Homo sapiens: one gene and its partners. The protein of the gene in region 1 interacts with the protein of each later gene in a pairwise test. Each region holds a gene or a part of one and is shown in the gene's direction. Other genes may lie near its edges. The genes, in order: FA2H, ERLIN1, SYT2 and TMEM41A.

What was found.
Region 2: the proteins of FA2H (region 1) and ERLIN1 interact in binary tests that used the Homo sapiens proteins (3 or more experiments, as listed by UniProt).
Region 3: the proteins of FA2H (region 1) and SYT2 interact in binary tests that used the Homo sapiens proteins (3 or more experiments, as listed by UniProt).
Region 4: the proteins of FA2H (region 1) and TMEM41A interact in binary tests that used the Homo sapiens proteins (3 or more experiments, as listed by UniProt).

What each region holds. Positions count from the first base shown.
Region 1 is NC_000016.10:74,715,798-74,722,823, reverse strand, and holds part of FA2H (fatty acid 2-hydroxylase), read left to right. Parts: intron 1-3,663; coding exon 3,664-3,836; intron 3,837-4,250; coding exon of another isoform or gene 4,251-4,574; exon of another isoform or gene 4,575-6,224; coding exon 6,225-6,477; intron 6,478-7,026. UniProt on the Homo sapiens protein: Catalyzes the hydroxylation of free fatty acids at the C-2 position to produce 2-hydroxy fatty acids, which are building blocks of sphingolipids and glycosphingolipids common in neural tissue and epidermis.
Region 2 is NC_000010.11:100,169,012-100,176,037, reverse strand, and holds part of ERLIN1 (erlin-1), read left to right. Parts: coding exon 1-93; intron 94-1,756; coding exon 1,757-1,830; intron 1,831-7,026. UniProt on the Homo sapiens protein: Component of the ERLIN1/ERLIN2 complex which mediates the endoplasmic reticulum-associated degradation (ERAD) of inositol 1,4,5-trisphosphate receptors (IP3Rs).
Region 3 is NC_000001.11:202,595,455-202,602,480, reverse strand, and holds part of SYT2 (synaptotagmin-2), read left to right. Parts: coding exon 1-103; intron 104-423; coding exon 424-591; intron 592-2,006; coding exon 2,007-2,124; intron 2,125-3,129; coding exon 3,130-3,263; intron 3,264-5,517; coding exon 5,518-5,724; 3' UTR 5,725-7,026. UniProt on the Homo sapiens protein: Exhibits calcium-dependent phospholipid and inositol polyphosphate binding properties. May have a regulatory role in the membrane interactions during trafficking of synaptic vesicles at the active zone of the synapse.
Region 4 is NC_000003.12:185,489,083-185,496,043, reverse strand, and holds the end of TMEM41A (transmembrane protein 41A precursor), read left to right. Parts: intron 1-728; coding exon 729-890; intron 891-1,282; coding exon 1,283-1,421; intron 1,422-4,286; coding exon 4,287-4,507; 3' UTR 4,508-6,443; downstream 6,444-6,961.

The sequences.
Region 1 (7,026 bases):
TTCTCCTGCCTCAGCCTCCCAGGTAACTGGGATTACAGGCATGCACCACCATGACCGGCTAATTTTTGTATTTTTAGAGACGGAAGTTTCTCCATGTTGGTCAGGCTGGTCTCGAACTCCTGACCTCAGCTGATCCGCCCACCTCAGCCTCCCAAAGTGCTGCAATTACAGGCATGAGCCACTGCATCCGGCCCAGAAGACAGATTTTTAAGGACTTGACAAGCCAATGGGAAGTGGCAAAGTGGAGCCATGAGTCCAACCTACGTTTTCTTTTCTTTTTTTCTTTTTGAGACAGGGTCTTGCTCTGTCATCCAGGCTGGAGTGCAATGGTGCAATCACAGCTCACTGCAGGCTTGAACTGCTGGGCTCAAGTGATCCCCCTGCCTCAGCCTCCTCAGTAGCTGGGACTATAGGCATGAGCCACCATGCCCAGCTAATTTTTTTACTTTTTGTTGAGGCGGGGTCTCACTGTGTTGCCCAGGCTGGCCTCAAACTCCTGGGCTCAAACGATCCTCCCACCTCAGCCTCTCAAAGTGCTGGGATTACAGGCATGAGCCCCCATGTTCAGCCTAGCCTGACTTTTTAGGAGCCTTGATGATGAAGGGGCTGAGTCCATGATGGGAAAGTCTTGCCTACCTCAGAAAGATGAGCAGAAGAGCCAGGAGAAAAGGAGAGACTGAAGGAGCCCAGAGGAGTCCCTTGGGAGGGAGGGTGGGAGGAGGCGGCTGAGGGCTTTGCACTGCCGAGCAGGGGGAGCCTGGCAAGTCATGGACTTTGGGCCTCCACGTCCTCAATCATGCAGGCAATGCAGGGCTTCCCTTGTAAGGCTGTGGTGAGATGAAATAGGAAGTAATCCATGGAAGGCCCTTGGGCGGTGCCTGGCACACAGGAATCAGTCAGGACACATCTGCCGTTACTGTTGCTCTGATCATCCAGCGCCCGCGTGCCGGTGCACACCTCTTCCCTGAGAAGCAAGGAGGATGCGCCAGGGTACCGGCAGAATGTGGTGTGCTTGGAAGTTGGGGGAAGTATGTGGAGGGGATAGTTCCTCCCCAACCCCAGGGCCTCTCTTCTCTGTGAAGTAGGAAGCTGGGTGGAAGGAGAGGCAGTAAAGGGGAGTAGAGCGTGTTCAAGGGCAGTGGGGAGGGAGCTGAACTTGAAGATGCACAGGGATCATCCATCAGGCTGTGTCTAGGGTCTTGCAGAGGTTAAAGGTGCCAGACCCACAGCTGTGTGAGTCTCCATGCTCAGCAGCTTGGGTATGGGGTACAAAGGCAGGTTCCTGCGCTGACCCAGGGGTGAGGGTTCATGGGTGCAGGTGAGGGAGATGGAGTAAGGGTTAAAAGAGAACGGCTAGGCCAAGCATGATGGCTCACTCCTGTAATCCCAGCCCTTTGGGAGGCCAAGGTGGGTGGATCATTTGAGGTCAGGAGCTCAAGACCAGCCTGACCAACATGTTGAAACTCTGTCTCTACTAAAAATACAAAAATTAGTTGGGCATGGTGGCGCACACCTATAATCCCAGCTACCCGGGAGGCTGAGGCAGGAGAATCACTTGAACCCGTGAGGTGGAGGCTGCAGTGAGCCGAGATCGTCCCATTGCACTCCAGCCTGGGTGACAAGAGCGAAACTCTGCCTCACAAAAAAAAAAGAGAGAGAGAATGGCTAGCTTTGGAAAACAGTCTGGCTATTCTTCAAAAGGTTAAACATAGAGTTATGATATGAACCAACAGTACCACTCCTGGGCTTGTACCCAAGAGAAAGGACAACATCTTTTCACACTGAAACCTCTACACGAATGTGCATAGCAGCACTATTCACAATAGCCAAGAGCTACAAACAGCCCAGGTGTCCCTCAACTGATGGATGGATGAATAAAGTTTGAATATCATTCAGTCTTAAAAAGGAATGGAGTTGTAATACATGTTACAACATGGGTGAATGTTGAACATATTCGGTAAGAGAAGCCGGTCATAAAAGACCATATGTCATATGATTCAATTGACGTGAAATGTCCAGAATAGGCAAATCCAACAAAGAGGAAGTAGACCTGTAGCTTCCTAGGGTTGGGAGGGTCTGAGAAGAAATGGGGAGTGGCTGCTAATGGGTACAGGGGCTTGGCGGGGAAGTGATAAAAATGTTGTAAAATTGACTGGGGTGACGGTTTAACAACTTTGTGAGTGTACTAAAAAGCACTGAATTATATATTTTATTTGGATGAATTATATGGATGTGAATTAGATTTAGATAAAGCCGTTAAGAAGAGAGAAGATATGGCCAAAGCTATGGTTTGTAGAGAAAAGAAACAAAGATAAGAGGATGAGGATGGGCTGGGCACGGTGGCTCATATCTGTAATCCCAGCACTTTGGGAGGCTGAGGAGGGCAGATCACTTGAGGTCAGGATTTCAAGACCAGCCTGGATAATATGGTGAAACCCCCTCTCTACTAAAAATATAAAAATTAGCCAGGTGTGGTGGCACACACCTGTAATCCCGGCTACTCAGGAGACTGAGGCAGGAGAATCACTTGAACCCGGGAGGTGGAGGTTGCAGTGAGCTGAGATCACACCACTGCACTCCAGCCTAGGCAACAGAGCAAGACTCTATCTCACAAAAAAAAAAAAAAAAAAAAAAAAAAAAAAAGGATGAGGATGAATATATGGAGCAAACAGGAATGAGAGCTGAAATCTCCATGAGGTCAAAGAATGAATGAGGTGGAGGAAAGAGCTGAAAGCCGCTAGGACTGCAGGCTGTCTCCGGAGGGTGGTGGGAAGCATGTGCTTGAAGATGGTGCCCTGTCTCCAGTCTTCTCCTCTCCACCTAGGCTGATCATCTTCAGTGTTTTCACATCTTCCTCCTGTGCTATGATTTCAGGTCTTGTCTGTTGAGATCTCGGTGCTTGTTTTTTCTTGTCCTTCCTGCCCCATGGTCCCTGGTGGGTCACACTTCCCATCATTAACACCCTGGAGGCCAGGCACAGTGGCTCCCTTCTGTTATCTCAGCACTTTGGGAGGCCAAGGCGAGAGAATTGCTTGAGTCTGGGAGTTTGAGACCAGCCTGGGCAACATAGCAAGATCTCGTCTCTACAAAAAAAATAAAAATAAAAAATAAATTTAAAATTAGCTGGGTGCGGTGGCATGCACCTGTGGTCCCAGCTACTTGAGAAGCTGAGGTGGAAGGATCGCTTGAGCCCAGGAAGGGAAGGCTGCAGTAAGCTGTAATCACACCACTGCCCTCCAGCACTCCAGCACTCCAGTCTTCCAACCTGGGCGACACAGAGATACCTTGTCTCAAGATAATAATAACAACGCCCTGGCTCAGGAGTGTCGCCTTCTCTTCTCCAATGTCCTTGGGGCAAGGTCACCCTTCCAGGTAAAGGCCCAGCCCCAGCCACAGCCACTCCTCCCACAGCCTCTGTAAGGAGGATGTCAGGCCTCCAGCCAGTGGCCCATCACTCCTGTAAAGGACTTCCCAGACCCAGACCAGAGTCCTACAGCCTCCTTCCCATTTTGACTCAAGGACCCCAGCAGTATGGCCTGGCCCTGTAGCTGTCCAACAGAGGGCAGCAGCTCCCGAGCTGATGGGGATGGTGAGGCAGGGACACCTGGAGCTACCAGGCTGCTATGCACCGGTCCTCACCTCGCTCTCCCTGCCACCCTGCAGAGTACACGGTGGCAGTGCCCAAGTCCATGTTCCCCGGGCTCTTCATGCTGGGGACATTCCTCTGGAGCCTCATCGAGTACCTCATCCACCGCTTCCTGTTCCACATGAAGCCCCCCAGCGACAGCTATTACCTCATCATGCTGCACTTCGTCATGCACGGCCAGCACCACAAGGTGAGCGGGGCGGGGTCCCAGCCCGGACCTAGCATGTGCAGCCCGAGAGGGCCCGGCAGCCAGCCGCAGCTTCAGGTGCTGCGGAGCCTCCTGGGAGTCTGGCTGTGGGTTGGGAGGGACGGGACGTTTGATGTGACTCACGGGGCAACTGGGTTGGGCATCCGAACCTAAGCCAGGCGGGGACAGCGTGGGTGTGCAGCATCAAGCTGACCCCAGGCCCTCTGCACCCTTGTTTACGCATCACCTTTAATCCTCAAAACAACTCATTCATTCGTTCATTCATTCAGCAAATGCCCAGTGAGTGCCTCCTGTGTGCGAGACACTGTTCTAGACATCATTGAACAAAACAACAAAAAGCCTTGCGCTCCTGGAGCTTGTGCTGAAAACAGCCCCATGGTTCTCCCCGTTCCACAGAGCAGGAGACTGAGGCCTAGGAGGACTAAGGAACTTGCCCCAGGTCACACTTGGCACAGCCAGGATGTCGTACCCCATTCTGGGGATTCCAGAGTCTGCGCTCTCAATCACCCTTCCCCTGAGGCCCTTCAAGGACTCCACGACAGTCCCAGAAGCTGGCCCGAGAAGATAGGTCTGCCCAAAGGAAGCTACCTCCCCTGTACCCCCCGCTGCTTCTCTGTCCCTGCATTGTGCTGTCCTTGGCCCATCCCAGGCTGTTCCCCAGCCCGTCTCCACACTCTGTTCTCTGCTGGGCATAAATCAGAGAAAATATGGCAGATATGATACTTTCGGGACACCAGTTTAGACCCTGATGTCGCTGATACTGAACGTGGGTTTCACCTTGGTTTCCCAGCAGCAACTTAATCCGGTTCATCTCGATGAGCCGATTCGGGGTTTGATCGGCCGCCTGGGACAGTTCTCAGGTTGGTTGGCTGTGGTCCTCCCGGCTCTCCCCAGAGTTGATCTGCATCCTAGGGGGCTTTCCTAGGGGCCAGTATCAGGGTGGGTGCCCAGTCCTGGGCCAACCTGTCTCTCAGGTATGCTCTCAGAGGTAGCGCAGCCCAGGCCTGGCCTGTGTCCTCCAGCCTCACCTGGCCTCTGCTCTGCAGAGCTCACTGCATCTGCTTCTGTGTCCCTTGCCCTGTTTGTGAAGCCTTTTCAGATCCACTGCCCTGTCCGCTATCTTTCCCATCCACAGGGGACACCAGAACCTTCTGGGAACCTGCTCAGGCCATTCTGGGGCCCCAGGGGCTGTCTCAGGCTCCCTCTTTTGAGACACTTCCACCCCAGTCTGTCCAGTCCCCTGCTGCCACACCATGAGGACCCGAGGAGACTGTATGGCCTGTAGCCACGTGGGCTCCAATCAGGAACGTGTTCTCAGATCCCCAGACCTATCCATCTAAGGATCCTGATCCAGCTGTGACCCGGATCTGGCCCATACCAGCTCACAAGAGCACCCATGCACATCCTTTCCTGTTTCTGTTCCAGTGACGCCACCTCAGCGCTTGAAAGCGCCAGGGCAGTTTTCACACTGCAGGAATTGGCAAACACTACCAATCAGGGCTCTCCCTCCCTCCCTTTATTTCCCCCTCCCTCATTCCCCAGCTCTCTCCCTTCCTCCTTTTCCTGAGAGCTGGTTTTCCAGCACATCACTGGTCCTGTTGTTCCTGGTCTGAAGGGAGGGAGGCCCACGCCAGCATCTCATTGTGTCACTGTCACCTGCTTTCTCTCTCTCTCCTCCAGCCCAGAGAGGCTGCAGGATTCTCTTCTCAGACTCCTCACCAAGCCATAGCTAAGATCTCACCTCTATGCCAGGCCCTTGGCTTCTGAAGCTCGAGGGCCACGGTGAAGCGGTGTTCTCTGGTTCACTGTGGCGACACCCCCTTGGAACAAAAAAGGCCTCCTGTTTGGACATGGGGGTGGGGAGGACACCTCTAGTGACACTTCCGGGTCATCCCGCCACAGAGGCTGCATTAACCTCAGTTGCCCTCAGTGCCTTGCTCTCCCAGACAACATCAGGCCTCAGTCTAGGTGCCCTGTCTCCAGAATGCCCCTCTAGCCAGGGGCACGGCATTTAGGGATGGGATACCTGTCTAGCACCTGACAAATTCCAGAGTCACAGTGGCCTCTATAAGATGGGCTCTGAGCCGCCAGCACACCCCACCCATCCTGCCCATCCTGCCCATCCCGCCCATCCCATGTTCCTTTGCAATCTGCCAGGTCCCTTCCTGGCTCACAAATGGGAAGTAAGACAGTCTCTCCAGATCTTCCAGACGTGGTGGCCCGCCCTCCCCAAAGCCACCAAAGGTGCCAAGCCTACGCAGTGGAATGTCTGGGCCGCTGTGCCCCTGTCCTCTGCAGGGAGTGGCCAGGGTTTGGCCAGCTGCCGGGGCCCCTGGCTGCCTCCTGATGCCCAAGCCTCTCCATCTGCAGGCACCCTTCGACGGCTCCCGCCTGGTCTTCCCCCCTGTGCCAGCCTCCCTGGTGATCGGCGTCTTCTACTTGTGCATGCAGCTCATCCTGCCCGAGGCAGTAGGGGGCACTGTGTTTGCGGGGGGCCTCCTGGGCTACGTCCTCTATGACATGACCCATTACTACCTGCACTTTGGCTCGCCGCACAAGGGCTCCTACCTGTACAGCCTGAAGGCCCACCACGTCAAGCACCACTTTGCACATCAGAAGTCAGGTGAGGATGGGCCTGTGCTTCCCAGCCCCCTATGTGTGTTCATTGATTTATTTGCCAACTACCATCGAGCTCCTGGGAACGGCAAGGCACTGTTCCATGTACGGGGCATATACAGAGGGTTCCCTCTACTCTCTTCCCTGGTGCAGACAGCTGTGCAGAGACAGGCAAGGACATCAATAAATGGCAAAGATTTCAAACTGTGATAAATGCCATAAAGAAAATAAAGGGGCTGGGTGTGGTGGCTCACACCTGTAATCCCAGCCGAGGGGATTGGGAAGCCGAGGCAGGTAGATCACTTGAGGTCAGGAGTTTGGGACCAGCCTGGCCAACATGGTGAAACCTGTCTCCACTAGAAATACAAAAATTAGCGGGGTGTGGTTGTGCCCACCTATAATCTCAGCTACTTGGGAGGCTGAGGCATGAGAATAGCTTGAATCCAGGAGGCAGAAGCTACAGTGAGCTAAGATTGCACCACTGCACTCCAGCCTGGGCAACAGAGCAAGGCTCTGTCTATAAAAAAAAAAAAAAAAAGAAGAAGAAGAAGAAAGT
Region 2 (7,026 bases), on another chromosome or scaffold:
ATGACAAGACCTTAATCTTCAATAAAATCCACCATGAGCTGAACCAGTTCTGCAGTGCCCACACACTTCAGGAAGTTTACATTGAATTGTTTGGTAAGTGTCTTAATTCTTATGTATGTAAATAGCCAATTGGAAATCTTTGTTCAGCTTACTTATTGAGGTTATATTGGTAAACCTTAGTGCTATTTAAGCATTTCTTCTGAATTTATCATAGAGCAATTGTCTTTAAAATATTTTTTATCTTAAGTTTAAAATTTTTTATATAACTTGTTAGAGATTGGAAAAACTACTCAGACTGTATTCTGTTTTTACTGTAATAACTTAGTGAAAATTAGCTTTGTTGATGTTTTAATAGATAATTTGAAAAATTTAGAAACCTGTGTCTTGAGGCTCCCATTTTTGATGATTTGGTAGGAGACTGACAGGACTCAGCACATAGTTGTGTTCACAGCTAAGATTTATTACAGCCAAAGGGTACAAAGCAAAATCAGCGAGAGGCAAAGGCACACCAGCAAAATGCAGAGGAAAGCAGGTGCAGGCTTCCAAGAGTCAAACATGTGCCTAATTCCCACAGCAACAAGCTGTGACAACACATGTGAAATGTTGTCTACTAGGGAAGCTCATTGGAGACTCATTGCCCAGGGTTTTCACTGGGGGCTGATTATGTAGGCACCCTCTGCCTACCACATAAAAATTCCAGACTCCTGGAAGGAATGCAGGTGTTTGGCATAAGCCACATTGTATAAACAGTTCACAGCAAGTCAATTGTATTAGCTCTGGGGATAGTGGGACCCTTCTACAAATCCAAGTTCCTAGGTGCCAACCAAGGACGAGTTTACAAAAGGCCTTTCTAAGGATTGCAGTATCAGCCCTGCTTTCTTAACTCACTTCTGTACAACTTACTTTTCATTTATGATAGTGGAAGTTCTGACCAGGGAATGAGTTGTTGCTGTTGGTAGCTCACTTTTCCCTCCTGAAATTTTTAGTGAATTTCTAAGATGAAGGAATAAGCAAGAGTAATCAATTTAAAATCTACCAATTGAGTCCTCTTTGGTGATTGTCAACCACTGAAGTGGCATGTGAGGAAACTGATGGGTCCTGCTTTGTCTCACCACCAGTCATTTAAATAGCGAAAGTACCATTGAGGTGAATAGAAAGTGCATAGTTACAAGCCCAAGTGTTCATGCTGTGTATATTTCAAATACTTTTCTATGAGCTTCTCTCTCTGTCTCTCTCTCTCTCTCTCTTTAAATCCAAAATAACAGTGAGGCTGAGATCCATGGAAATGAAGTTTAGTTATTTGGGAATTTGAGTAAAGATTTACTGAACATAGAAATTTGTTTTTCTTTGAGAATGAGGATACATATTGAGTAAGAGCCCTGAATTAAGATACTAGAGATCCAGATTCTCCATTTATTAGATCAACATATTTTACCCAGTAGTTGTTTATCCAGTAAATAAGTCTAATAAGTTACCCAGTAAAAAAGCTTATCCATAGTTAAGTAATACATTTAGTGGGTAAACTTATTGGATAAACAGACTATCTGCTTGTCATCTTCGTTCCTTAATTTCTTTATTAGATAATTCCTTGCAATTTTTTTCCCACACAAAAGGGAAGAAAAGGCAGTTTAAGCTCTGTAAAAGAATAGTACTGTGGAAACTTTAGGTCTAATAATGATTAGTTTTGTTTCATTATGAATACAATGTAAAAAAAATTGACTATCATGAGATCTGTTGTTCTTGGCTTAAAAAACAGATCAAATAGATGAAAACCTGAAGCAAGCTCTGCAGAAAGACTTAAACCTCATGGCCCCAGGTCTCACTATACAGGTAAGTTCTTTTCCTAGGGAAGTTCTCTGGGGATTTTGAGAGCTTTGAGTTTGTTCCTCCTTTCATTGGATTGTTTTATTCAGCAATTATTTGAGATGCTATGGTGATTTATAGAATACCTTTCTCAATTTGACTTTAGATCTCTGCCAAAATAAAATACTCTTGTAGCTTACTATGGGTGACATTTGTGAACTCCTAGAGGGAACTGATAAGCTGAGGCTCTTACAAGGAAGTAAAATTCATATTTCTGCCATGTATGAAGCATTAAGATACAGTAATGGTTATAAATCAGTGTAAGCATAATCCCTGCCCTCAGTAAGATTATGAAAAGGGAGTTCAAGTGTAAAATTTGAACAATCCTGGACAAAATAGTTATCACAAAGTATTAATTGACAGATGAATCTATTGAATGATTATTGCTGTAAGAGTAAGAGAACATTGGAAGACAGTGTGTCTAGGAGAGGGCTGTGATTGAGTTGAGATTTTAAGTAGGTTTGGAAAAATTAATTGGATTTAAATGGGGGAAGAATGAGAAAGGTATTTCAAGTGGGAGGGACAGCCCTAGTAAAAACAAGGTAGCAGGTGAATTTAGTGGTAGTGGTGATGGTGACGTTGGGAAATAGAATGGTGAGAGGTTTTACCCCTGCTTTTTTTTGGGTCACTGTGTTTTCCAGATTGTGGGTTGTAAAATCAACTTTAGTGAGTCATGAACAGCATTTTAAATAAAATGGAATAGAATAGGAAAAGAAATGGTATGTAATAAGTTTAAATATTCTGTGACACTTGTGTTTCACAGTGTGGCGGGGTAGGTGTTTATATTGGACGTCAGTGCAAAATGTGTTTCTTACTGTGTCCACTGTCAGTAACATTCGAAAGCCACTGCTCTGGATCCAGATGACCTAAGAAGTTATATTGAGGCTTCTCTAGTGTCCTTTCTCAGGAGCTCTAGGAGACCAGTTGATTGTTGATTGTTGTGATGAACATTACTGCAACTAAAGCTTATCACATGTCTCTCAATTCTTTACACTCAGCACCACTGCTACTGAGAGTGTGCGCTCACTGTGATTGTATGTGTTCGTGCTTCTCAAAAACAAGACTGAAAGATAGGTGGGGTTTTCCTCATGGCCTCATTCATGCAATGTCATTATCTCAGGCGCTTGAGGGTGAGCCACCAGAGTTAAGGGGTCGTTTGAAATGTCCAGAGGTAACTTTGTAAAATCCTCTGAGTTGTTCAAGTCAGTTGTAGCTGGAGTAGCTTTTTAGTTTTAAAGATAGTGAATGTGAAGGTCAGCTCTTAGATTCTGCCCAGGGTGTTACTCAGAGATCTAGCTCATTCAACTGTTGTTTAGAATTCCTTGCCTTATATTACTTAGCCATTTTTCTGTTCCCAGTTTTTTGCTATTAAACAATAGTGTAATGAACATTCATGACACATGTTCTTGTATGTACAAATTATCTTTCAAACTGACTGTACAAATGTACATTCTTAACAGCAATATGTGCAAATAATTGTGACCCATGAACTCACCAACATTGGAAGCAATCAGACATACTGATTGTTACCATATGGATGGGTGGGCAATTATATCTCCCTTTGATTTGCATTCCTTTGGTTGTTAATGAGGTTGAACATCTTTTGATACATTTATTGGTCATTTATACTGTCTTCTGCTGATTGCCTATTCATATCTTTTGCCCATTTTTCTGTTGGATTGTTTTCTTTCTTACTGATTTGTTCTGTATAAATTTGGAATTTTTATACACACACGTTATTTATGTTGTAGAAAAAAGTTAGATACTAGGAAAATGATGAAGAATAAAATGAAATTCACCAGTAATCTTATTATGCAGGGATAACATCATTTGTTATATCTTTCTCGACTATTCTTAATGTATATGAACAAATGTTTGTAGATATAAATGCATACATGCTCAACTAAAGCAGAATCATACCATACTTGCTTTTTTCACTAACATTGTCTATGAACATCTTTCCAAAACAAAAATATAGGTTTGGTAAATCATTACTTTTAATGGTTATATTTAGTGAATCTCTATGGTTTCAAATTTTTTACTACTGTATGCATGTTGGAATGACCAAGCTTATATATTCTGTACATCTTTTTAAATCCCTCTCTTACAATAAATTCTTGAAGTGGGATTGATGATCAAAGTGTATGCCCTGTTTGGGGGCTTATTGATACATACTACCGAATCACCTTTTAGAAAAATTTTAGCAGCTCCCCCCCTCATTAGCAGTGTTGGTAAGCTGTAGTTCTTACACATTTGATTGCATGATTGTACCCAAATAATTAGCAGATGCAAGCTTTCCCTTTCTCTCTTAATCCTTTTGGAGAAAATTAGTCTGTTATTTTGTGTTAATTATTGAAGTTGAATACCCTAGGTTATTAGCTGTTTTTATTTCATTTATAAATTGTTGGTTTTGCTCATTTTTGTAGTTAATGGTTTTTCTAACTGATTTTAATAAGCTATTTTTGGCTGGGCATAGCGGCTCACATCTGTAATCCCACCACTTTAGGAGGCTGAGGTGGAAAGCTCCCTTGAGCCCAGGAGTTTGAGGTCAGCTTGGACAACATAGTGAGACCCCTTCTCCACAAAAAATTTTTTTAAAAAATTAGGTAGGTGTGGTGGCATGTGCCTGTAGTCCCAGCTACTTGGGAGGCTGAGGTGGGAGGATGACTTGAACACAGCAGGTTGAGGCTGCAGTGAACTGTGTTCATGCTGTACTCTTGTCTGGGCAACAGAGCAAAACCCTGTCTATAAATAAATAAATAAATAGCATTTGTATATAGAGAACTTGTTTTTGAACCTTACCCTTTGAGAGGGGTAGAATTCGTTTTTAAAAATAAACTTTTTCATATGTTAGTTATTGTAGCTCTTTTTTATATTTATAGGAAACATTTTCTTCAAATTTTTTCTTTGTCATTTAACTTTGTTTTTTCCTTGCTGATAACTTTGAAGTGTTCATGTTTTACATAGTAATTTCAGTGATTTTGTCTTTATGGTGTGTTGCTGAGCTGGCATGTTTTAAGAGCTTTTCACCACCTTAAAAGTATAGCAATTAAAATTAGAAATTATAAAAATTGTATCTGCTTTTACAGTTGTATTCTTAGATTTAAATCTTTTAATTCATCTGCAACCCATTTTGATCTCAGTTGCAAGGTAGGCCTTCAGCTCCATCCCCTCAACCCCAAATTGGGTAACAGCGGTAATTACTGAATAGTTTATTTTTCCATCTTCCCCCTTCTTTGAAATAGTTTTTATGTTACATACTGCATTCCATTATATACTAGAGTCTTTTTCTGAACTTAGTTCTGTTCCATTGATCTTCCCATTCCTACTCTTTCATTAGTTATTGAGTCCTTGGTCTTTTCTCATCAAATCGAATTTTCTCCTGTGTTTTTCATCTTGTCAGTTAATGGTAACTCTTTCCCCTCAAGCCAATCTAGAAGTGTAGGAGGCATCTTTGACAATCGCCTCACCCTCAGCATCTAATCAGTCCCTATGTCCTGCAGATTCCACCACCAAAATCCATGTATTAATAAAACTGACCACACCTCCATCTTCACTGTCATCTCAAGCCAAGCTACCAACTCTAACCTTGACATGTGCAGTAGCAGTAGCCGCCTGTCTTCTTTCCCCACTTTCACTTTTACCTTTGTCTACTTCATTTTCTGCACAACAGCCAGAAGGATCTTTTGAATTTACTTATATTTATTTGCTGTTTTTATAAAAAGTTATTGATTGAAAAAATGTAGTTTTGTTATACGTTCTTAAAGTGGTAGAGATCTCCATTGTTTTAGGGTTTAAAAAAATTTTAAAATAATTTTTATATTTTGCAATAACTTAAGCATACCCTGAGAAGAGAAGAGCTCCTTTGCTTTGGTTGCTTTTGTCTTGTTATAAAATTTTTTTTACAATAGTTGGAATGCATTTTAAGAATTTCAAGGCTGTTTTTGAGCTTTGTTATTTTTAACACATTACCATATGGTTGTGATAATTCAACTTTTTATTTTAAAATCTGGCAAGAGACATCATCTTTTAAAAAATAATGGCCTTTGCTGTTTCTGCCAGCTTAATCTTCCAGATGAGTTTTCATTATCGATATTTTCAAGCTATATCAGGCACCTAAGTGGTCATATACATGTTGTTTTGTTTTGTTTTGTTTTGAGACAGGGTCTCCCTCTGTTGCCCAGGCTGGAGTGCAGTGGCATGATCATAGGTCACTGCAGCCTTGAACTCCTGGGCTCAAGTGATTCTCCTGCCTTAGCCTCCCAAGTAGCTAGGAGTACAGGTACACACCCCCACATCTGGCTAATTTTTTTATTTTTTGTAGAGATGGGCCTTTGCCGTGTTGCCCAGGCTGGTCTCAAACTCCTGGCCTCATGCAATCCTCCAATATAAGTTAAAAATAGAAACATAGTTTATGGCTTTACTTTATCATATCAGCCTTTTTGGTTTTTAGAATTTCTGATTTAGGGGAGAAACTCATATCCTAAGTTAAATTAATACCAATGGATTTAATGAATTTTAATGCTGTTCAATATGTAGTCTTTTTTTTTTTTAATCATTGAGGAATGTGATTGATTCTTGGTAGATTTATCTTATATCTACAACTTGAATTCACTGCCTTCTAGTAATTTTTGGGTTACTATTTTTACAGTCACTATTATATTTTTTTCCTTTCCATATATTTATATACCATTTTTCTTCTTGAAAAACTACTCTGGCAAATTAGAATGATGAAAATGGTCATCTTTGATTTTTTTTTTCCTATGTTATTTAAGGGAGTGACTATATTATAGACTGGCTTTTGATATATAATATATGCTTAAAACCCAGGGGTCAGTTTCAATACATATATTCCTTTCATTAGCCATTTTTTTCCTCCATTCACTCTATGTATGTGAGTGGGATGGGGGCATTATTTTATTATTTGAGGTTAAGAGCAGAGGTTTAATAGGCAAAAGAAACAGAAAGGAGAATAGCTCTCTCTCCTGTGAGGGAGAGGGGTGCCTGAGTGGGACTTCCCACTTTTACTTTTAAAATCTCTTTTGATGCAACTTACTCATGGTATCTGTACAGTAAGTGTTTATGTTTTCACATATTTGAAAATCTGTGAGATTTCCCAAGATTGGCAAGCACAATGTAGTATGTTCTTCAGCCTCATTCAGC
Region 3 (7,026 bases), on another chromosome or scaffold:
TTATGTCAAGGTCTTCCTCCTTCCTGACAAGAAGAAGAAATATGAGACCAAAGTCCATCGGAAGACACTGAACCCTGCCTTCAATGAAACCTTCACCTTCAAGGTGCTGAGGGCTGGAAGGGTGACTCCAGCTCCCTGCCTGATCCCAATTCTCTGCTGAGTTCTACAGACCTTTCCTTGGTCCTTAGCCATGGCTCAGCCTGGAACAATGGCAGCCTTGACTGCAGGGCTACCCCGGCCTCTATGGAGGATCGGGATCCCTCCCACCCCACCCTCACACTCTGCTCCCCAAAAGCCTTGGTCTTTGTCTGTCTCGGCACACTAACCTGGACCCTGTGGGCTGGAATGCAGGCCCCTGCCCATAGCACCCCTGGAGGTGCGTGAGTCGCTCTGGCCCCCTCTGATTCTGCTTGTGCCCTGCAGGTGCCATACCAGGAGCTTGGGGGCAAAACTCTGGTGATGGCCATCTATGACTTTGACCGCTTCTCCAAACATGACATCATTGGAGAGGTAAAGGTGCCTATGAACACAGTGGACCTCGGCCAGCCCATTGAGGAGTGGAGAGACCTGCAAGGCGGGGAAAAGGAGGAGGTAAGAGCAGAGATGAGGCCAGGTTGGGCAGAAAGACGAATGTACAGGTGGGCTTCCACCTCTTGGCATGATGGAAACAGGGTGGGCTTTGGAGGCAGACGACCTGTGTTAGGATCCCAGCTCCACACTGCCTGGCTGTGTGACCCTGGGCAAGTTGCTTACACTCTCTGGACTCGGGTTCCCTCCTTTAGTCTTTTTTTACAGATGAGGATTCATTACCTGCATAAAGCGCCTAGCGCAGCGACTGGTATTTGGTAGGTACTCAAATAAATAAAAACACCATTATTATTGTTACTCCTAAGCTTCTGCTATTACCTAAGGCCAGTGATTCACGCCTCTGTGCCTCAGTTCACCCACAAGAAAAGCTCATGTTTGTTCTAAAGGATACTCAGCAAAGGGACTTGTCCTCCCAGAACTGCTACAGCATCCATTCACTCACTAAATATTTGCTGAGCAATTGCTGTGTACCTAAAACTCCATTTTAGCCATTCTTCCTTCTGGGCATCAATCATTTGTCTTGGCCAGGGCCCTGCTACCTGGCACACTCTAGGCAGTGATGGAGGGCTGAGTAGAGAAGCTTAAGACATCCTTTTTTCCCTTTTGTCCCCTGTGCCTGGGAGGAAGGCCAGCACACCTGAACCAGGACCTGTGTGATGTCGTCAGTCTTGCCCTGGGTGGCTTTGACTTTGAGCAGCTTTGACTCTGCAGTGTGGTGTTGGCCTTAGGAATTAGGAGCCCTGGGTCCTCAGCCTGCCTACAGTGCTAAATTGTTGTGTGACTTTGAGCAAACCATGGCCTCTGGGAACCTCAGTTTCTCATTGGTTACAAAGAATTCTTGTCTTGTTTACATCAAAGAGTTGCAGTGATAGTAACAAAAGGGATGCAAATTGCTCCGAAAACCACAAATCATACTACAAGTGGAATGGTCCACAAGGAGAGATCTTGGTGGGTGGGACTGTTAAGGGAAAGAAGGCTTCTGAGACATTCAGTCCCCCAGGGCCCTTGGTGGTGGACACGTGGCTAACCCACCCGCTTCTCGCACACCTTCCCACCTTACCAGGGCCTGGGGTGGGAGCCCAAACATACTCCCAACCTCCCAGATCCCAGATCCACCCAGGGATCCCTCCCTCAGTCCTGCCACCGCAGCTGTCCTCTACCCCCCTCATCTGTCAGCATCCTCAGCCCACGGCTCCTGAGGTCCCAACCTGTCACTTTCAGGGACTTTGTTGCACTGCATCAGGGGGACCCAAGGTCAGATGCTGGAAGACCTTCTCGGCCATCACATATATGGGGACTGGTGATGAGGGAGGCAGGGACACATCACTGCCTTGCTAATTTTGGCAAGAAAGAGGTCAGCCATGAGAGAGGCACTAGGATGGGTGAGATGACCCAAGTCCTGCTCTTCCCCTGGACAGCCGGAGAAGCTGGGCGACATCTGCACCTCCCTGCGCTATGTGCCCACGGCCGGGAAGCTCACTGTCTGCATCCTGGAGGCTAAGAACCTCAAGAAGATGGACGTGGGCGGCCTTTCAGGTACGTGGAGAGCTTCTGGCTGCCATTGGGTGGCACCAGCGAGCCAGTCAGCACCAAGTCCCAGAGTTTGCACACTCCAGTGAAGAGGAACACTTTGCTGCCCTGGGACTGAGATGTCTCCTCGAGGAGCGGGGGAGCCTTAGCTTCCCAGGCCCTCCTTTTCTCCAAGGGCCCCTTGTCCCCATCAGAGCTGCCTTCCCAGCGCTCTCTGGCCATGCACTGTGGGCTACAGAGAAAAGGATCAGAGAAATTTCATCCCCAGATAAGTTTGTGACTTAGGATTTTACTTCTCCCAGGGAAATGAGCAGGGCTTAGCCCAAAGCATGACACCACAATCGAGACATGTTTCCAGAAGAGGCTGTAGGCTCTGCTGGCTCTGCCCTGGAAAGGGGAGGGTGAGGCAAGGGAGTGGAAGATGCTCTGAATATCACATTTACCTGGCAGTGAATGGGGCTGGCCCATGGCACAGGGCTCTAGTGGATGAAGCCTGCTGCCTCAGCTGCCTTCCCAGAGAATCAGCCCTGGGCATGGGCTCCAACCAGCGCGTTTCAGTGCCAGCCTGGCTCTGTCACTGACCCGCTGTGTGACCTCGGGCAGGTCATTTCCGTTCTTTGGCCTCAGTTTCTTGTCTGCAAGATTAGGGGGATCGGATTGGGATTATGACCCAGCAGATGTGTGTCCTGACTTCAGCACTCCCCACCCACTCCCCAGTACAGGATCACAGATGAATCCCCAGACTCTTTCTCACAAGGCCTTACTTAGACTCAGAAATGCCCTCCACCCAATGCTTCAGGAAGCCACAACCAACTGGTCACAGTTGGTCCTGGAGGTGAAGCCTTTTGCCACCTTTGAACTGGATGGCATGACTTGGGGCTTTCTGAGGGCCTGGTCTCAGCGGAGTGAAGACCCCCTCTTGACCGATGCTCTGGGCAGGCCTTGGTACATTCGGCAGGAAGGCTGGGGGCTAAGGGGAACCTCTCTGGGGTTGGGATTCTCCCTCCGCAGACCCGTACGTGAAGATCCACCTGATGCAGAATGGCAAGAGGCTCAAGAAGAAGAAGACAACCGTGAAGAAGAAGACCCTGAACCCATACTTCAACGAGTCCTTCAGCTTTGAGATCCCCTTCGAGCAGATTCAGGTGCTGGAGCCCTGGGTTCCTAGGCATGGAGCAGGGTTTGGGGAGGCAAACATGTATGGGGAGGTTGAAGAGAGGGAACTCACCTAGAGACCATGGAACAGCCTTTCTTGGTAGGGGAAGGCTCGAGGTCTAATGGTGCCTGGGTGGGGCCTCCTTCCCAAGTGCTTCAGGGATCCCCCTTTTCTGAGGAGATAAACATGAACTAATTCAAAAAATTCTGCAAATCATTCGTTTAGGACTTGAAGGACCATGGTCATGCACACAGATGTATGGGGGTATAGCAAAGGTGCCAGAGGGGTTGGGAGCTGGCTGAGAGGGTGGGAGTGGCCGCTGCCACCTCCATCCTCTCCAGCCACATCCTGTCTTGGCCATCCCTGCCCCACTTCCACTGCTCTCTAGGTCTTTCCCATCTACTCCTCTGATCTGCTTCCTCTCCTCTCTCCCTCCACCCTTCCAGCCTTCTCTATTTTTCCTTCCTTCTCACCAGCAAGTTCTGTAAATGTTGGAGATGAGGTCTGGTTTTCACCATTTCCAGGTATGAGTGGGATCTGGACGTGGTAGGACAAGAGACCCACCCACCCACCCATTTGGGCGGGAAGTCAGGCGCAGCTGGGGGCTTGCAGAGTGGTCGGTTATCATGGAGTCTTGGTCTCTCCTTCTTTGTAGTGAGCTGATCCCACCCCCTCTCCTCCCCGCAGGAGGGCTGGGGGCAAGGGTACAAGAGAATCTTCAGAGTTGGTTCTGTCATCTATGGAGATGTGTATGATGTTATTGATGGAATACTTCAAGGGAACACTGGGCAGCTCAGTGATAATGTTAATCCAAGAGAAGTCCTCATTACAGAGAATTTTAGATCTAGAGCATCCTGACCCAGGCATCTCAAATTCAACATGCCTAAAACCAATGTAATGTTCTTCTTCCTACCTCTTCCCAGCCAAGCCTGTTTCATCTGAATTCTGTTTTCAATGAATGACCCCACAGTCCATCATTTACCCAGTGGCCCAAGTCAGAAACCTGGGCGTCACCTTAGACTGACTATTTCCTTTTTCCTTTCTCATTTATCCAACATACTTTACTGAGCATTTCCTAAGTGGTAGGCTAGGGGATGAGGAAATAAGTGTGTAATCCACACACTCCTTGCTCTCAAGGACCTCACAGTGGGAGGGCACCAGTAAACAGTCTAGTAAAGCACAGTGAGACGACAGCTTCAATGTCCATGAAGCGGAGGACTGTAGTGAGGCTTCCCAGAGAGAGCTTGGTCCTGAAGGACAAATCTGAGTTGGCTGGAGTCACAGGGGAAAAAGGCATCGAGCATTCAGCAAATCCAGCTGATCATCAAGTCCTCTTGATTCTCTTCCTAAATACCTCTCCAACCTGGTTTTGACTTCCCATCCCCACTGTCCCTGCCTTGGTACAGGTATTCGGGATCCATCCTCCCAGACCCTCCAGCATCCTCCAATGGGTCTCTTCCCTGCCATTAGGCCCACTCCTCCTCCAGTAAATCTTCCAACTCAATGCCAGGGCTCTCTCTCTCAAATGTCCACGACACTCCTTTTCTTAAAGTCGTCAGGAGTCCCCTACTGCTTGCCTGAAAGACAAAATGCAGACTCCTTGGCTGACCCCAACCTACTCTACCAGCCTCATTTCCTGCCTCACTGCTTCTCACCCTATACCTCAATGACTGAACATCTAATGTTTCTCAGATGCCAAATGCACTCTCAGGTCTCTATGCCTCTACCCAAGCAAATCTGTTTTCCTGGAATCCTCTTCCTTCTTTTCTCCTCCTAGAGAAATTCTCAGACTTCATGTCCCAGTCACCTCTTCTGTGAAGCCTTTTCTGATTGGCCCCAGGACTGTCACCTCCTCTAAGTTTCCACAGTACCTTGTGCCCATCTCTCTAGCATAACCTTTATCAATTCATGTTGTAAGTTTTCAGTTACATGTCTGCTGATCTCATTGAGGAAGTGAAATTCATCTTTTCACTTTTCCTTCCCTCTTCTCCCCCTCCAAGTGCTTAACAGGGTCTAGAGCACAGTACATCCTCAATAAATGCCCAGTGGTAGAAACAAAGGCTGCCAAAGGCGTGGCCTCTGCCTCCATGTCAATTCAGTCTTCACTGGAGCAGAGATGAAACCAAGGAGCCCCAGGAGGCCTTACCTTCCCAATCATTGGGAGTAGAGGTTGATGGAGGATAAATTTGGTCATGGGATCCCACGTCTCTGTCTGCCAACTCCCTCCCTCGTTTTCCTTGCAGAAAGTCCAGGTAGTGGTCACCGTGCTGGACTATGACAAGCTGGGCAAGAACGAAGCCATAGGCAAGATCTTCGTGGGCAGCAATGCCACGGGCACAGAGCTGCGGCACTGGTCCGACATGCTGGCCAACCCCCGGAGGCCCATCGCCCAGTGGCACTCGCTCAAGCCTGAGGAGGAGGTGGATGCACTCCTGGGCAAGAACAAGTAGACAGCAGCGGCTGGGACCCCACACCTTTCACGGACACTGACAAGATCCAGAGCTATCAATACCTCAGTTATGCAACCTTAGAGGTTTTCTTTTTTCTTTCATTTGTTGGGTGGTTGTGTCCTTGTTTTTCCTTGTTTTTCTCTTTTTAAAGACCAACTTCCCTTTGATGGCTGTGTGAGGAGAGTCCCCTAAGAGGTGAAAGAGAAGCCTGGCTCTGTTCACGGTCCCAGGAGCTGTCCTTGCTGCATGCCCTGTCACAGTTCCCTCGACTCTTTCAAAGCTTCACATCTGCCTCACCCCAAGCGAGGCTCTCTACTGGCACAAACTTGCAGCAGTTCCTGTTTTTTGAGCCTTCTGGACCAACAAAATGGCAGCACATCCTGCTTCCTGACAGGGAAGGCATCACAGTGGCCAATGATCGTGTGTGTGTGTGTGTGTGTGTGTGTGTATGTGTGTGTGTGTGTGTGTGTGTGTGTGTGTGTGTGTGTCTTTGAGCATTTCTCTTCATTCCTGGAATGTGTGTGTGTGTGTGTCTCTTTGAGCATCTCTCTTCATTCCTGGAATGAGCCATGGACAGTAAAGTTGTGTGGGAAAAGAAGGCTCTTTGGGGACCCTGACATGAAGAAGTCCACTAAGTGGGAGATCTTCTCTCATCTATGGCAAAGTCTCAGGATCCTGTTCAGATATCGGGGCTTTCATACTCCTGTTGGTGGCTATTTGGGAGGCAGCAAGATGTGAAGACTGGATGTGTTCAGAACTAGGACCAAACGATGCCATCAAATACTTCCTCCTGCCAGTCATGGTTTCCCCAGAAGTGTAGTTCCTGGGACATTCATGGATATGAGCTATTCACTAGTTGGGTCAGACTAACAGGGACTCTCAGTCCCAAAATCTCACTCTTATTGACAATAAATATCAAACTATGAAGAAACAGAAGTCCCATTACCAGAAAGACCAAAATTAAACTCCTGGATCTTCACCCCATCCAGTGGGAAACACAGATGCTTTCTCCCTTTCCAGAATATAAGCAGCCAAGTTCATTTGCATTTATTCCCCATTGTGCTTTTGCTTCTGTTTCTCTTTTAAGTGGAGCAACACTGTCTGAAGACACGTTATCTGTGCAGAGCCAGAGAACTTTAAAAGGAAAGTTTAAATGTTCTTAGTTCTCCTGAGGTCCAGGTAAGAAGGGGGTGGTAAGAAGAGGATGGGGGACAGATGGCTGAGATCCCTTGGGAGGAGATATAGGGGAGCACTGGAATTCCCCCGACTCCCACTCCTTGCTCCCTTGGCCCTCTGCCCTCC
Region 4 (6,961 bases), on another chromosome or scaffold:
ATGTAATTCCAGCAAAAAGCAAAGAAACAAGACATCTTACATAGCTTGTGTGGTCTTACCAAGGGAAAATTCATGGTTTGTGTTCATCTTTTGAAATAGTAAAAATAACTCGTGAGTTTCATTTCTACTTTCTTGGAGCCCCAGTCATTGCAGAATCTACCACAGCCACAGATCCCATTTCATTCTCTCCTGCCCCCTGAGGCTTTTATCCTTATCCTCATTTTCAAGGTGAAGAGACTGACGGCAGGTGTAGTTCCCAGCCTTTTCATAATTTTTCATTCACCTCTTTAAATGGCAATTGGGACCTGGGGCAGTGGCTCACGCCTGTAATCCTAGCACTTTGGGAGGCTGAGGTGGGAGGATCACTTGAGTCCGGGAGTTTGAAACCAGCCTGGGCAACACAGTGAGACCCCATCTCCACAAAAAATTTTAAAAAGTGGGTGAATGTGGTGGTGTGTGCCTACAGTCCTAGCTGCTTGGGAGGCTGAGGCAGGAGGATCGCTTGAGTCCAGGAGTTCGAGGATGCAGTGAGCTATGATCATGTCACTGTACTCCAGCCTGGGTGACAGAGCGAGATCCTGTTTCTTAAAAATAAATAAATAACGCAATTGGGTTTTAGCTGGAAAAAAGCAGTGAAGGAGGAGGGAACCTATGACTCTCAGGCTCCAAGATGACGTGCCTGGTAGCTGCCAGATGTTCACATGCCTGAGGGTTTGTTTTATTTGCAGAATGTTTTAGCTGGTGCCTTGTTTGGGCCATGGCTGGGGCTTCTGCTGTGCTGTGTGTTGACCTCGGTGGGTGCCACATGCTGCTACCTGCTCTCCAGTATTTTTGGCAAACAGTTGGTGGTGTCCTACTTTCCTGATAAAGTGGCCCTGCTGCAGAGAAAGGTAAGGGGAGGGGTCACATCTGAGAGCTGGGACCCCAGACAGTCGCTACGTGCATGGCCTTGAGAGAAGCGAGTGGCAGGGATTTCCCACAGTACTCTTCCACGCTGTTTCAGGAGGTCCTAGGGGTTCTTTTGATGTCTTCAGGAGACATAGACCTGGGATCAAATCCCAGCTCCATCATTACCAGCTCTGTGACTTTGGGCAAGTTCTTGACTTCTCTGATCCTCAGCATGTCTATTTTAAAATGAGGAAAACAGTCTTTCCCTGGAGGGTTGTTGGAAGAATTGGGAACAGATTATGTAAAGTGTCTAGAACAGTGCCTGGCACCAGCAGGTTTTCAACACCTGGAGACCCTTTCTGCTTCTTAACAGCTTTCTTCTCTTTGGCTACAGGTGGAGGAGAACAGAAACAGCTTGTTTTTTTTCTTATTGTTTTTGAGACTTTTCCCCATGACACCAAACTGGTTCTTGAACCTCTCGGCCCCAATTCTGAACATTCCCATCGTGCAGTTCTTCTTCTCAGTTCTTATCGGTAAGATGCTAGTGGGGTAGGTTTGAGTCTTCAGAGCTGTCACGCTGGGGGTCTGCCCTGGGTTATTGGCCACGTGAGCATGTGCCTGCTTCTGAGAACACAGGCTCACAAAGTGTGACTTCAAGCCTTATGATCTAAAGAAATGATTCCTGATTTCAGATCTGCTCAGGCTTCAACATGAAAACCCATAAAAATACTTTTGGACTAAATAAAGATTGTCCATTGCATGGCTGTATGCACTAGGCACTGGGATTAGAAGAGATGGTCTGTGTAAAGTATACAAATTGGCCCATAGTAAGTACTCAGTAAATGCTAGCAGGAAGAGCAGGGTTGGAATGAGGGTGTGTGTCCATGAGTTTTGAGTGGGGACAGAAGAAAGGAGCAGAGCAAGGGACTTCCTGTCTGGTTTTTGGCCCCTGTTTTGATTAAGTTCTGCCTTAGGAATTGCTGGCATCAGTGTGGTTCCTTCCTGCCTTTTGACAATTGCACAACCTGCAGCAAGCTACTTACCCTCAATGGACCACCTGGCTAGGAATAGAGCAGTGTTTCTCAAAGTGTGGGCTTTGGGCCACCTTCATCAGATTGTTAGGGTCAGGGGGCTTGTTGAGAATCTAGATTTGGGGCCTACTCCAGACCTACTGAATCAGAATCTTGGGAGTGGAATCTGGGAATATGCATTTTAATCCAGTTCCTAGTCAGTCATTTTCAAACTGCAAACCCAGTCATTCTCAAACTGCAAACCTATTAAGAATCGCCTGCAAACCTATTAAAAATCACTTGGAGGCCGGGCTGAGTGGCTCACACCTGTAATCCCAGCACTTTGGGAGGTTGAGGCGGGTGGATCACTTGAGGTTGGGAGTTCAAGACCAGCCTGGCCAACATGGTGAAACCCCATCTCTACTAAAAATACAAAAATTAGCCTGACATGGTGGTGTGCGTCTGTAATTCAACTACTTGGGAGGCTGAGGCAGGAGAATGGCTTGAACCTGGGAGGCGGAGGTTGCAGTAAGCTGAGAGGATGACACTTCACTCCAGCCTGGGTGACAGAGTGAGGCTCCATCTCAAGAAAAAAAGCAAAAAAACAAAAACAAACAAAACAACAAAACATCACCTGTGGAGATTTTAATCCCTAAGCTAAGGCTACACCACACATCAACTAAATCATCTCTGGGGTAGGACTCAGGGATCAGGATCTTTTAACATTTTCCAGGTGATGCAAGTAGTTAGTCCCTAAAAGGGATTCCGCTGGATCCTGAGTTTTGCAGTCTACTGAATTAGACGATATCTAAAGTTTCTCCTTGCCTTTGACAATTATATGACCTGCAGCGAGCTACTTAGTCTGAACGGGCTACTCGTCCAGATAAGGGGCTGGGACTAGAGCAGTGTTTCTTGAAGTATGGGCCTTGGACCACCTTTATCAGAGTGGTAAAGTGCTAACATCCTATAAAATCAGTGTTTGCTACTTTCTCCATACTGGAAGAAAACCACCCTCCTTAAGCCTAAGGCAAGGATCTCTTCTCTTAAACCTCCCTTAGATCCTAGAGGGAAAGACGATTCAGGGCTTCTAGGTCAAACAGAGCAAATCTGTGGTTGAGCAGCTGCTATTCATAGGAGATACCTGAGAGAAATGGAGATCTTAAATAGAAGCAAGATCTACCACGGCCAATTTTGGTCATATTGGCTTTCAGACAAAGTGCCTCAGGCCCTCAGCTAGTGGGGGTTTGCTGCTTCTAATTACCTAGGTGGCATGAGGCTTGGCAAGATTCTGGAGACCAGGCTTCCTGTCCTCTGTCTCACAAGCTGTGTGACCCTGAGGGGTCTGGGATCTTCATCTCCTGTATACTTCCTCTCCTATAGAAGAGAAATGGACTATCAGAGTGTTCCAAACCAATCGGAATCTCAGGGTGGGAGTGGAGAAGGGGCTTTTAAAATACAGGTTCCTGGGCACTACCCCAGAACCAAGTACCCAGAATTTCTGGGGTGGAGCCCAAGGATGTGGTTTTTTAACAATGTCACCAGCTGATTGTTCTGCAGCCAGCCTGTTCAGCCAGCCAGACTTTTGGAATCCAGTGGATTTGATGACATCTTTGAGACAGTACAGAATGTGAATAGTACTTCTTTTAAAAAACTGTTTGTCAACAATGGCACTTCTCTCTTTACTTTGGCTGTTGGGTACTCAGAACCAAATTTGGGGCCCACTTTTGGCAAACAGGTGAACCTTATGCATTTTTTTACTAACTGTACTCCCTGATGTCTTGTATTCTTCTGCACGCATTTTGCTTTTCCTATTTAAAATTTTATTTATTTATTTATTTATTTTTGAGACAGAGTCTAGCTCTATCGCCTGGGCTGAAGTGCAGTGGTAAGATCTTGGCTCACTGCCACCTCTGCCTCCCAGGTTCCAGTGATTCTCCTGCCTCAGCCTCCTGAGTAGCTAGGATTACAGGCACATGCCACCACACCCGGCTAATTTTTGTGTTTTTAGTAGAGACGGGGTTTCACCATGTTGGCCAGGCTGATCTCGAACTCCTGACCTCAGGTGATCCACCTCGGCCTCCCAAAGTGCTGGGATTACAAGCATAAGCCACCATTCCTGGCCCTATTTTAAAATTGTCTTATAGTAGCATGTATTATTTGTGTAAATATCTCAAGTTCTTTTGTTGAACAAGACAGGCATATATGGGAAGTGAGGAAAGGAGGGAAAATAATAGAAAAGAAGGAAAGAAGGGAAAGAGTTAATATGTATAAGGGTCAAGAGTCAAGCAAAAAAAAACCGTAGTCACTGTTCCTGGTGACATTCTGAATTATTATTTTCTTAATTTTGCTGCTGCTTGTAACAGGTGCTTTGTCCTTTTCTTCTTCCAGGTTTGATCCCATATAATTTCATCTGTGTGCAGACAGGGTCCATCCTGTCAACCCTAACCTCTCTGGATGCTCTTTTCTCCTGGGACACTGTCTTTAAGCTGTTGGCCATTGCCATGGTGGCATTAATTCCTGGAACCCTCATTAAAAAATTTAGTCAGAAACATCTGCAATTGAATGAAACAAGTACTGCTAATCATATACACAGTAGAAAAGACACATGATCTGGATTTTCTGTTTGCCACATCCCTGGACTCAGTTGCTTATTTGTGTAATGGATGTGGTCCTCTAAAGCCCCTCATTGTTTTTGATTGCCTTCTATAGGTGATGTGGACACTGTGCATCAATGTGCAGTGTCTTTTCAGAAAGGACACTCTGCTCTTGAAGGTGTATTACATCAGGTTTTCAAACCAGCCCTGGTGTAGCAGACACTGCAACAGATGCCTCCTAGAAAATGCTGTTTGTGGCCGGGCGCGGTGGCTCACGCCTGTAATCCCAGCACTTTGGGAGGCCGAGGCCGGTGATTCACAAGGTCAGGAGTTCAAGACCAGCCTGGCCAAGATGGTGAAATCCTGTCTCTAATAAAAATACAAAAATTAGCCAGGCGTGGTGGCAGGCACCTGTAATCCCAGCTACTCGGGAGGCTGAGGCAGGAGAATTGCTTGAACCAAGGTGGCAGAGGTTGCAGTAAGCCAAGATCACACCACTGCACTCCAGCCTGGGTGATAGAGTGAGACACTGTCTTGACAAAAAAAAAAAAAAAAAGAGAAAAAAAGAAAATGCTGTTTGTATTTTGTGGTCTAATAAGGAGTTCGGGATAGCCTGTTGTATTTGCCTCATGCCAGCCCCTGAGCTGCCTTGGGAGAAGATGCTGATTGTCCTTGTCCAGAGTACTGCTTTTGCAGAGTGACAGGCTGCTGGGACAGATGTCCTCCTGTTGCATCTTTGTGGATGTTTAGTACCAATGATGACACGGGAACTCACATCACTGACACCGCTCTTCATCTTCTGTTAGTCTCTTGAAGAGCATTTTTTTGTACTTCTTTGCTGATGACCTACCTCTTCATAAGCCAAGTGAAACAAGTTGACGAACTGCCTAGGACTTCCACGTGTTGCTCACATACATGATGATTTCTGTCACGCTCTTGTGTTCAGACACACTGACATTACCATGTATGTCAGACCTCCTTATGATCGCATGTCCTGACAGTTAAGCTGATTGCAAACAGACTATTAAATATGAATGGAGCAAACGCTGTATGTCATGGATATGTTCTGGAGAAATTCTTACCCATCTGGATGGGGCAGGGCCCTTGACTCACCTGAATCATGACCAGGCAAACATTTTATCTGTCCTTTCTGCAGGAATCCGTTCTGTGTCATGCTAGGAGAATGGGTTCAGTATATGGGGCCATCAGGCAGTATACCCTCTGAATGTTTTTCATTGTTGTATTTGCTTAGAGTAACTAAACAATTGTATCTTTTAATTTATCTTTTAATTCAAAGAGGAAACCTTGGCTTCTGATAACTTTGTTGTGTTGTATCTTAATGGCCTATAGCTGTCATTACTTCCTGTAGCTGCAGTACAGAATTGTTACAGACCTGGATTAATGCTTCCAAAGACAGAAGGACCTTGGCACCTAAACTGACCAGCCCTGTGATCCTGCACCCCACAGGAGTAACTCATCAGGACTTACCAGACTGCTGCTTTTGGGCATCATCTGCTGGGTTGATGATTTGGTTTGGCCAAGAGTCTTGCCAAGACTTTAATCTATGCCTCTTGTTCTACATGAATTCTTGGGAATTACTCACGTTCCATAGGAAGAGTGCATCCCCAGGTGATGGTTTTTGGTTATGGTATGATCCTTTCACACCGAGGATTTCATTGTTTAAAACGTGTTTCTTTAAAAGAAGCCTTGATAACGAGAGTGGGGGAAGGAGGCAGCAGACTTTGAAGACTGTGGCCTTTGGTGTTCTGGAGTAGGGGGAGGGAAGGAGAAACATGTTTTCCACATCATCGCAAGTGTGTGCCCTTTGCCCCTTTTCAGGATCCTTAGAGTTGCCTCCCTCCCTCCACCCCGACAGTTTTGCAATAATGTGCCTTATCAGTTGTGAGTTTACAGGTGAAGCAATTTCCCAAATAAATGGATGTAAGTGTTCTGTGTGGTGCTTGTTTGAACATGTTGCTAACTTTCAACTACCTTTGCCAGTGGGAATTAGGATTGGCTGAAAATTGGACAGTCCAAAATGGTGTTTTAAGCTTTCCACTCTCAATGCTTCTTACCAAAATAATTTCTCAGAAGCCAGATTTTCATCTTCATTTTCTCTCTCTGCTCCCTGTATAGTGGGGTCAGTAGTAACAGGAGTAGCTACCGGATGGGCAGCAGGAAAGCATAGGGAAGAAGCAGAGTGCCAGTCTAGCTTTTACAGAATACTCAAGAAGAGGCTGTCACCAAATAAAATGATGATTGCCCCTTCCTTTCGTGGCTGTGTCAAATACAAGAATCGCAGAAACTAGCTTTCTCCATTACCTGCTTTTTGTGGCTGCAGGAAACCCAGTCATGGAAAGTCTTCCTTTCCCTCAAGTTCTGACAAATGCTGAGATTATTAAGGCAGCTCTCAGGGCACAAACAGTACATTTAGAAAAAGACAGGACTAGAAAACAGTGAAGTACACTT